Regions from separate parts of the Homo sapiens genome. Here region 1 is linked to region 2. The links come from fine-mapping of genetic effects on gene expression. A gene starts in region 2. The other region holds a variant in brackets. All regions are shown on one strand. Distances are from middle to middle.

What was found. PIP is the estimated chance that this variant, and not a neighbour inherited with it, causes the effect.
Region 1: its variant is the best candidate, but not a certain one, in a credible set for the expression of CBX2 in whole blood (TOPMed, PIP 0.63).

The regions. Positions count from the first base shown.
Region 1 is chr17:78,875,164-78,880,527 of GRCh38, reverse strand. All of the region lies in intron 1 of TIMP2 (TIMP metallopeptidase inhibitor 2), which reads left to right. Among named protein-coding and RNA genes, the nearest start is that of CEP295NL, 25 kb to the left of the region's middle. RefSeq lists enhancers at 1-761, 762-1,655. The variant G/C (reference allele first, on the strand shown) is at 2,465.
Region 2 is chr17:79,775,866-79,781,164 of GRCh38, reverse strand. It overlaps CBX2 (chromobox 2), which reads right to left and starts at 3,017. Exons shown (of 5, transcript NM_005189.3): 1 at 2,858-3,017; 2 at 2,738-2,781; 3 at 1,738-1,803. The coding sequence starts at 2,929. RefSeq lists an enhancer at 1,764-2,357 and silencers at 2,753-2,822, 2,833-3,212.

The sequences.
Region 1 (5,364 bases), 900 kb after region 2:
TTTTTTATAGATGAGGTATTGCTATGTTGCTCAGGCTGGTCTTGAACTCCTAGCTTCAAGCAACCCATCCACCTTGGCCTCCCAAGTGCTGGGATTACAAGTGTGAGCCACTGCACCCGGCCTTTCGAGGCAATTTTCTTTTGGGGTCTGTCTCCCTCCCCCAATTGTGGGCATGGCTTGTTCTTATTTTCCGCAGGAACTTCCATAGTACTTCTGTGGACACAGGAGGATTGGAAAGATGTTGGTGGGTGTATGAAGGGGACGTGAGGACGCAGGACCCACGTGTTGATGGCAGCAGAGGGGACACCGAGGAGAGAGAACAAGGGAGGACCGTGCCACAGAAGCCGTGGCGTCTCTGCCTGGGGCTGGCGTGGTTGGAGTCTGTGGAGAGTGCCGCCCCTCCGGCCAGCCCTTGGCCCTGGCACATGCTGGTGACACCAGGTTCTCCAGCAAGCCCCCTTCACTGTCTGCTCCCCTCCGAGAGCAGCAGCAGCCGGTCCGGCCTCTGATGGTTTTCCAGGGGCGGTTGTGACTGTCGAAGTCTGACCGTAGCCCATCCTCTTTGGATCGTCTCCCGCGACCTTGGTTTTCCGCCCACCCGGTTCTTTTCCGTCCCCACTCTGGCGGGTGCGCTCGGGATTGTTTTTGCAGGGGGGAAGTGACATCATATGGTGTCCTGGGCTGGAGGGGTGGGGGTGGGGACCCTGCAGTTGCGTGTGCTTTGAATTCAGCCGACGGTTGTACATTCCAGTAGCCGGCATCTGGCGGTGAATTCATCAGCCAGTGTATCACCCTTGATCTCAAACCCAGATGTTGTGTTCACAGCAGAAGGGAAAGAAGGAAAAACGAAATCTGAGACGCCCAGGGAGAGGCCGTGGTTTCTGGGCTCAGGGCAGTTAGAACGAGAGTCTTTATAAAGACTCCCCCTCTCGCAGCTGCCTCTGGCTCCTTGGGGAAGGGGCAGAGGAGCAGAGCAGCCCCTCTCGGGGGCATGGACAGGAGATGGGCTGACACCCACCCCAGTGCCTAACACCAGGCCCAGCACCCAGTAGGTGTTCAGTAAACGTGTCTGTGCCACAATTTTCATTTCTTCCCAGATTCCTTATGTCTCTTCGCTTTCCCCAGCCCTGTTCTTCACATGGCCTGGGACTCGGAGAGGCCCTCCCTCTTTTGAAGTGGCCTGCTTTCCCCTACAGAACTGGTGGTCCATCCTGGAGCTCAGAGTGCGGACCATTGCCATTGGCATGGAAATGTATTCCGGAGAGCTCTCTCTCCCTCCTCCTCTGTCCACCACTGGGCATTGGAAACTCTCCTTCTCTGTGTTCCTATCCATCGTCTGTCATCTTGCCTGGATTGGATGCTCCTCCCAGGCAAGGCCTGCTGTATGCAGGATTCACCCTGTACCCTCTCTTCACCTGCTGTCACCTCTGGGCAACAACCCCCGACAGGTACCCGCTGCTCTGAGCAGGTCAGCGGTGCAGATCCCGCTATGCCAACTGGTGTGCACCGATCAGAGCTGTCAGCTGGCCCCTCTCCTTCATGTCTGCGGCGTGCTGGTGCTTTGGGGAAGGTTGCCGTGGAACTGGTCCTTCTTTGCCTCTCTTGATTCCCATTTTCCTTCTTTCATGTAATTTCTCATTTTGCAAAGTGGGGGAGGAGGTGCCCACCCCCAATTTAAAGGGACCCTGAAGAATCTGAATTCTGTTCCCCAGGGGCAGACTAAAGCAGCCCAGGGGAGATGGAGATGCCCTCAGGCTCTGCTCCTCCAGGCCCCTCACCCCCACTTCCCTGCCCCTCACCCCCACTTCCCTGCAGGCATCTGGCGGCCTCCTCGCCAGTTCACTTTCTAGTCCTAACCCCACGTGGCTACCCTGGACCCTTGATTTGACCAGCCTCCTCTTTTCTGACACTTTAAAGAAGGAAAGTGTGTAATCTGCAGCCCCCAGGCAAAGCTAGCACGCTGGGAAGCTGCATCAAATCGAGAGTCTGTGGCCTGCTGACCAGGACCGGGTCTGTGTACCTGAGTGGCATGATGCCACCGTCCCAATCCCTCACCCACGGGAGCGGGAGAATTCGCCCTGCTTGTCTATGCGATGCTCGTGGTCCTGAACTGTACACGCATTAGTTCCCGGGCACCGCAGCCTCCACACCAGCCCCTCTAACAGTCACCACGACCTTGTGAAGTGTCAAGACTGTTGTCATCGTCTCTGTCTTAGGTGTGAACAACTGTGGCTCAGTGAAGTCAAGGAGCTTCTCAAAGATCACGCAGCCATCCAGGGGTGAATGCAGGATCTCTGTCTCTTGCTGCCTCCTTCAAATAAGTGCCCAGCTGCCACCTGGGAGCCTTAGGCGTTTTTGTAAGAGAACAGCATGTGAACCTCAATGCCCATGGTAGGATGCAACATTTTGGCCGTTTTGAAGTAATCTTTGCTTATTTTCTGAACTCCAGTGACATGCTTGTTGA[G/C]TGCCTATTGTGCGTTAAGCATTGTGCGGCTTAGTGGACCATTGAAAGGCAGCTCCAAGGCCGGGCGCGGTAGCTCATGCCTGTAATCCCAGCACGTTGGGAGGCCGAGGCAGGCGGATCACGAGGTCAGGAGTTCAAGACCATCCTGGCCAGCATGGTGAAACCCCGTCTCTACTAAAATAAATACAAAAAATTAGCCGGGCATGGTGGCGCGTGCCTGTAATCCCAGCTACTTGGGAGGCTGAGGCAGGAGAATTGCTTGAACCCAGGAGGCGGAGGTTGCAGTGGGCCAAGATTGCACCATTGCACTCCAGCCTGGATGACAGAGCTAGACTCCATCTCAAAAAAAAAAAAAAGAAAGAAAGAAAAGAAAAGCAGCTCCAGAAATTTCCAAAATAACATACAGAATTCAGCAGACTGTAATAAAGGCCGGCTTGCTGCTCCTACTGGAACTGTTGATTCCTTTGGATTCTGCTGGCTTGCTTTTTTTCCTTTTCTTTCTTTTCTTTTTTTAAAAGACGGAGTCTCACTCTGTTGCCCAGGCTGGAGTGCAGTGGCATGATCTCAGCTCACTGCAACTTTCACCTCCTGGGTTCAAGCGATTCTCCTGCCTCAGCCTCCCAAGTGGCTGGGATTTTTGTATTTTTTGTAGAGATGGGGTTTCACCATGTTGGCTAGGCTGGTCTCAAACTCCTGACCTCAAGTGATCCGCCCGCCTCGGCCTCCCGAAGTGCTGGGATTATAGGAGTGAGCCACCGTGCCTGGCCCTGGTTTGCTTGTGAGCTGGTGACTCTGCTACATGAAGAGCAAACTTTGACCAAGTTAATCTGGCACATTGACTAATTTGCATAAACATTTTTGGTGCAGCATTGTCGTAAGGTATATAGATTAGGCAGGGAGCAAGAGAGCCAAGGACAAACTGCACCTGGGCCACCAGCCCAAAGTTGTCAGCGTCATCTCAGCTCCATCTGGCAAAGAGTTAGTGAGCACCAACTGTTCTGCAGTCAGAATCTAGCCTCAACCTGTTAGGACCTCCCAGGGCCCTGAGCAGACAGGTGTGCAGGAACTGACAGCAGGATGGAAAAGAGATGGGGAATATACCAAGTGCTGCAGAAGGACAGGATTTCCCAGAGGAAGACAGAAAAGGGCTATTTTAGCTGGGTCTTGAAGAATGAAGAAAAGTTCTCCAGGCAGAGAGGGGAGATGGCATTTGGGGCGGAAGAAACTTGCCTGTTCAGGCTGGGTGTGGTGGCTCACACCTGTAATCCCAGCACTTTGGGAGGCCAAAGTGGGCGGATCACTTGAGGTCAGGAGTTCGAGACCAGCCTGGCCAACATGCTAAAACCCTGTCTCTACTAAAAATACCAAAAAAAAAAAAAATTAGCCTGGCAAGGTGGCAGTTACCTGTAACCCCAGCTACTCAGGAGGCTGAGGCAGGAGAATTGCTTGAACCTGGGAGGTGGAGGTTGCAGTGAGCTGAGATCAAGCCATTGCACTCCAGCCTGGGTGACAAAAGTGAAACTCCGTCTCAAAAAAATATATATGGTAATTAGCCAGGCATGGTGGTGCCCACCTGTAATCCCAGCTACCTGGGAAGCTAAGGCAGGAGAGTCATTTGAACCTGGGAGATGGCTGAGATTGCGCCACTGCACTCCAGCCTAGCAGGGGTGGGGATGACAGAGCAAGACTCTGTCTAAAAAAAAAAGAAAGAAAGAAACTTGTCTGTTCAGAGGTGTGGATGCACCTGGGCGTGTTCAGGGCAGACAAGTATTATGAAGTGGTAGAATAGTGGGAGCATGGGTGGGGGGTGTTGGGCACAGCAGCTGAGGCCCCTGGCTGACTTCAGGTTGCAAAGGCGCTCATATTTTAGGGGAGGGCAGGGGGCAGCCAAGGATGATGTTTGAGCAGAAACGAACGTGAATAAAAAAAGACAGCTGGTTGCGGTGGATGAGAGGATGGTTAGGAGGGCACTGGAAATAGGGGGCCGTCAGGGCAAAGCCGTCTGTTCTGGAGTGGCCTGCCGGGAGACATTTCCTAGATGTGGCTTTTCAGGATGAGGCATGGATTAGCCTGGGAAACAGGAACCTGTGGCCTTGGCCAGTCATGACTCAGCTCCAACAGAAGAAGAAAGAAGAAAGGGGTTTGTGCCCAGGCGAGGCAGTGGGGCTGTGGTGTGGGACTCTGATGCCAGCCTGGGATCCAGAGAGCATTGGTGGGGCCCAGGGGGATGGACACAGATGGAGCACCCACACGCCTGAGCCTCCTTGCCCCTGTGGGAAGAGACAGCCCTGCCTAAGGGGTTCTAAGAGATTTGAGCCGACCACGTGGGGTGGGGCTGGGGCTGGGGCTAGGAGGCTGCCTGGAGCCTGGCGTGGTCTGCTCCTTACCTCTCTGTTTTGCTCATATCCACCGTAACATAACACTTACCCAGAGTGACCCTGAAGAGCTGAGTTTGGGAGGGCAAAGCTTTTAAAGCCATTAAAACAGACCATGTCACCAACTAATGGCCTTGAAATTAAGAAAGGGAGGGCTCTACCCAACCCTGCCCAAGTGACAGCATGAACTACTGATCTGCTTGTCCTCAGGTTACCAGGAGTGGAACAGAATCCTGGCTTAATTGCTAGGAGAAAGCCCTGTGTTGCATGGCCTGTCAGCAACCTCAGGCTCCAGAATATTCTGGAATTGCCCCAGCCCAGCCTCTTCCCCAACTCCTTTCTGTTTGGTTGGGGCTTAGTTGGGATCCTCTTTCCTTCTGTTTGTCCTTCCTCAGCATCTGTCCCTTGGGTCTGCCAGCTGTGCCTGCCGATGTCTCCTTTGGGTGAAACTTCCTGCCCCTGCCCCTGTTGTGCCCCTGATAGACTCTGTGTTACTGTAAAGAATCACCCAGGCTGGGCGCAGTG
Region 2 (5,299 bases):
ATACCTCTCTGTTCCTAAACTCTACTCTTGAGGGAGATGACAGAGGTGCCGAGGTCTGAGGCAGGCAAGGCTCAATGCACGCACCACTCGCAGTACCCCCCCCGCCCCCAGAAGAGCCTCCACACCTCCAGGGTCATGAAGTGCTAGCAGAACCTCCAGCCCCCAGGGAAAGCCTGTATTTCAGAAAAGGGGCCCTGGTAATTATCTGGGCAAACATCATCTCATTGGGGCCTGGAAGGCAACCTCCTCAACACAGTTCTGATTAGTACCAGGCAAAGTTCATACTCTTAAGTGCTGGTCCTTAACCTGAAATCTCCTAAAAGGACAATGAAGTGTTGCATGGATCTCCTCCGCTGAAATATTAACCTGTGCACTGACTGCTGTGATCCTGTGCGTCGCCAAGGGCCATACCCCCACCCCCTCCAATACCAAGCAGGTAACCGCCAGCTCCTAGTGCCCAGAGAGAGCTAACATTTTGGTGGATGGAGAAGGCTGTCCCACCTTCTCTGTTTTCTTTCTTCCACGATGTCATCCAAGCCACCCATGGGTTTTACACTCTTCTTATCTCAGGTGTTTCTGCTCTAACCAAAACCACAATCTCTCTCAACAGTTAGGACACCGTCTTAGATCCAGAGAAGCGCACCAGCCTCTGAAGTGGGCCAAGCCATTCCCCCACCCCAAGGCTCACAGCACCCAGACAGGAACTAACAGAAGACGATGGGTTGCTGTTACGATTTTCCAAAGGGATTTAAGCAAGCACAGGCTCTTCTTTTTGCTCGCCCCACCAGAAAACTCTATTTCCCCATTATCATGACCCCTCTGGGAAGACCCAATATGTCCCGCTACAGTGGAAAAAAGGGAATGCACCTTTTGCTACCAGAGAACAAACCGTCCAGATTGACCCTGGCTGGGAAAGACTCCAGCAACCAATTCTTCTGCCTCTATCCACAGGGCAAGTCCAGCCAGGGGATCCAGGGGGAGCCGTCAGTGAAACCACCCCCCATCTTGCCATTGCTTGAACAGTACTCCCTGGCCCTTCATGCCAGGTGGGCACATCCACTGCCCTCTCCTCACCACCCCTTGCCCTTGAACATCTCAAGGAGGCCTATCTCTTAACCTAAACTTCCTACCTAAAAATAGAAATGACATCTAGAATTACAGAAACAAGTCTGGCCCAATCCGGCCTCATGGTGCTACTTGGTACTGTATGCTGCAGGCCAGAGCAAAATAAATGTTTCTTTCTTGAGAGAGACATCACAATAGGCACAACTGCGTGCTGTGTGTTCCAGCTCCCTCTCTGAGCCTTCTTGCCTGATGGCACACGCGTGCAGGGCTGGAAGGGCAGACCTGCGTCACTGTGGCAAACCTGCTCTCCTGGTTTTCTGTTAGCGCCATGTGCAAATTACTCAGCAGAAAAGGCCAAGAGAAGCTATAACATCTTTATCTGAAGCAACTGAAAAAGTTGGTTTTTGCAAGTATGGCTGTCGGAAACACCAAAGCAGCACTTACTTAGGTTCTTCTCAGGGATGGATACAGGCTGGCTAGGAGAAGGTGGGAGAGGGGCTGGCTGGGGACTTTTACAGCCAGCCACAGAGATGGCCCTGGACACAATCTTGCTAAGGGACCTCAGACCACAGCCCCAGCTCCAGCCTCCCGGCAGGCGAGCAGCGCCCAGCACGACTCCAACCAGCCACCGTCCCTCCCCCACACCCTCCCCAGTGCTGTCAGCGTCCTCACTTCTTCTGGAAGGCCAGGAGCAGCCTCGGGTCCAGGATGTTCTCCTCCGGCTCCCAGCTGTTATGTCTGCAAAGCAGAGGACAGGGCAGCATTAGACGCCAGGCTGATGATCACCGCTTTGCAAGGCAGCCCGAGGGGGCTCGCCCTCACCGCTCCTCGACTTGGGCCGATGGCAGTGGCACCGTAGCACCATGGCACTTCTCAAAGTCCAAACCCAGGTTTTGGAGGCTGGCCACCCCCCACCAAGCCAGCACTCTAACCTCAGACCCAAAGGGAAACTGCCGCTCCAACCCCCCAATTAAAACAAGGCCACAAGAGGACTCCCACAGTCTCTGCCTGGGAGAAAAACAAACCCCCATAAAACGCAAAGTTGCAGAGAGGGATTCCCCCAAACCCTGGCCCGGAGCCAGAGGAGGAAGGGAAGGCAGGTCCAGCATGCAGGGAGGGGCACAGGCGCCCAGCCCGAGATCCAGAACAATGTGGCGCGCGGGCCGGGGCACCTCGAGGGGTAGCGAAGAAAGAGCGGGGTCCGGGAAGACGCAGAAACGGGGCCGCGGGAGCAGCTGTGCAGAGAGCCCCTTCCGGGGATGCCAAACACCCTCCCTTCCATTAAAAGAAAGAAAAAAAAAAAGAAACTCTACATCCATCAATAGCAAGCTCAGGTTACAGCGGGGAGAATCTGGCCAAGAGGAGGGGGGCTTGCATCCCGCGCCTCCCTCCCGGCCGGGACGGGGGTTGGGGGGAGCGCGGCGCGGCAGCCGAGGAGGTTCTGGCGCGGGGGGCCGCCCAGCTCTGCACCCGCGGGCGTGTAAACAAAGGGCAACCTCGGGCCGGGCGGCCCCCGCCCCCCTCAGAGCCGGAGGAGCCCGCGGGGACCCCGCGAACTTCCCGCTCTGCCCGCGGGCGCCCCCAGGCCACCGGACGGCGCGGCCGAGGGGCTCCACGTCCCCACCCCCGGGCGAGGGGGCGGGAGGGGGGCGCGGCGTCGCGGGGGACTCACTTGGAGGACCAGCCGCGCCACTTGACCAGGTACTCCAGCTTGCCCTGCGGGGAGAGAAGAGGGGCCGTGAGCCAGACGGACAGCGGGCGGCGGGCGGGGGGCCCGGCGGGCCGCACGCACCTTGCGGAGCCGCTTGCTCAGGATGCACTCGGCGGCGAAGACCTGCTCGCCCACGCTGCTCAGCTCCTCCATGCTGCCCGGCAGCCAGCCCGACCGCGGCGCCCGCCGCCAGTCACCCGCCCGGACCGCCGCGCGCCCCGCCGGCAGCACACAAAGCACCGCCCCCGCCCGGCGCCGGCCCGCCCCGCGCACGCGCACCGCCGCTCCGCGCCCGCGCCCCGGCCCGCCGCCCGCCCCCGCGCGCTGCCCAAATCCCGTGCGGGCCAATCAGCGAGGGGGGGCGGGTGCGGGGCGGGGCGGGGCGCGCATTGTCCGCGGCGGGCTGGGCCTCGCGCTCCGGCGGGGGGTCCCGCGCGGGGCCCCGGGCGGGGGCGGGGGCGGGGGTGGGGGCGCGGGCGGGCCCCTGGCTGGGGGAGGAGGTGCCTAGGGACTTCGGGCCTGGGGCGCCCACCGAGTCCCGCGTGATTCCCGGGGCGCGCCCGCCCTTGCTCCCAACTCCGTTTTCCGGGCAAAAAGCCATTGTTCTGGCCCGAAGGGAGGGAAGCGGGACGGGGCGCGGCGGCTGCTTCCTGCCCCCGCCTTCGAGGGGCGCTGCTCCGGGGCACGCGGGGCCCCACCCTTCCCCCGGCTTCTTGAACTGGCTTTTCCTCGGCAGCGGGGGAGTCGCTCTGTTTTGGACGAGAGCAAAACGGGTCGGGGGCTGGGGAAGGAAAGGAAGACGAAGTCCGGGGGAGGGGCCCACAAACCCCAGCAGCCGAGGCTTTTTCCCCCAAAGGCGAGAGAGGAAAATGCTTTAACTTAAACCACCAAGCACTCTGAGAAAGAAGTAATACGAACTGCCCGGAGTTCTTATTAAACAGCTATGAAAAGTGGATCCAGCCCCCGAGTTTTAGGGCACGTGTAGGGAGAAAACCAGCTGCACCTTTTCTGAATTTGTTCCCCGATTTTGATGAAATGGAGGGGGAGGGGGCGGTTTGCAAGGCTGTTCCTAACTTCGGACTAGGTCAGTAGTGGCCCGCCAGGGCTGGGCAGCCGGCGTCCTTCGGATCAATTGTCCGCGGCAGAAAAGGGTCAGGCCATGTTATGAAAGTGGGGGTGACCCCTTGTCCTCCCTGTGATCGTCGTCAGCAGGCTACCCTTTTATTCCGGTGTTAAGATTCGAATTCCATGAAGAATCACCCTTTAAGTTATTTAGATTTTGAATCAGGACAAGTCAAACACGTAATGAAAGAGACCTGAGCCTTAGCTTCATTCGTCTCAACGCAGTCTAACTCCATGAAAATTCACTCTCTGCTTTTCTTGCTTCCTTGAACACAGCTGCAAAATTCTCTTTCTGTTGAGCAGATCCAAAAGTCGTTTCTTGTTGTAGGAGACTGTCTCAATGTAATTGTGATCATCAAAACCATATTTATAAAGGGTTCTGCAGGAGAAATGTGTTTTTTTGTTTTTACAGAAAGGCCTACTGGAGAAAATACTGAACTGTAGGAACCGATCTTTCAATTTATGGCGTGTTCTTCAGTTTCTTTGGTTAGATAGGTTACATTCATTTGATTTCCTGGAGAGTACGTGCAAATTCAGATGTTGTTTGCAAAGAGGGCAGGAGAAAGGGAAATGTCCTTGGGGGGAAGGTGTTTGTTTACTCAGGGGCAGAGGCAGTAAAGAATCCTTGTGTTGGGATAAAACTGGCCTCTGGAGTGAAGGGATCCGCTAACAGTGTCTCCGCCGGCTCCTTTTGTATCCCTGTCTTGTGCAGCTTGGCAGTAAATTGTGGAGTTGAGGGCAAAGGTGTATTTATTGTAATCCTACAAATAGCTGGATCAGTTTCACATCACGTTTCCTTGCAGAATTCATCTTGGGTCTAAGATTTTGCCCTGGAAGTTTCCAGTTTCCTCTTTGACTCATGGTATGCTGGGATACTTGCTTGATTTCTTTTTAAAGAAAAGAAGGCTTTGAAAAGGGAATGATTTCTTTGCTTAAGAAATAAATTTGCTAGAATTTGATACTAACACATTGAAAAAAATAAATCAGCGTCCAGGAAGGTTTAACATGTACATCATCTACCCAACTGCAAACAGTTTGGGTAAAATAATATTTAGATAATTCATTTGGAGAAACAAATATGACAGATTTGGCCAGAATGAAATAATCAGATACATTCTGTGAACGTGTGATCCAAAATCTGTGGCACGTTCCCTAAAAACAAAGCTGGGAATAGGCAGAAGGGAAGAATAACCCCCAGCTAATCCAACTGTGTAAAACAAGCGGACGTCTTCCGTTTTGACTGTCACATTTTAAGAATTATTAAGACAAGTTAAAACTAATTATTGTATTATTCATTCGACAGATAGTTAGTATGTACTATCATGTGGGCACTACTAGATATCCAGTAGTATAAGACCGTAGCAGCAGCTCCATCTGTGGGTGATGGAAGTGGATGGACAG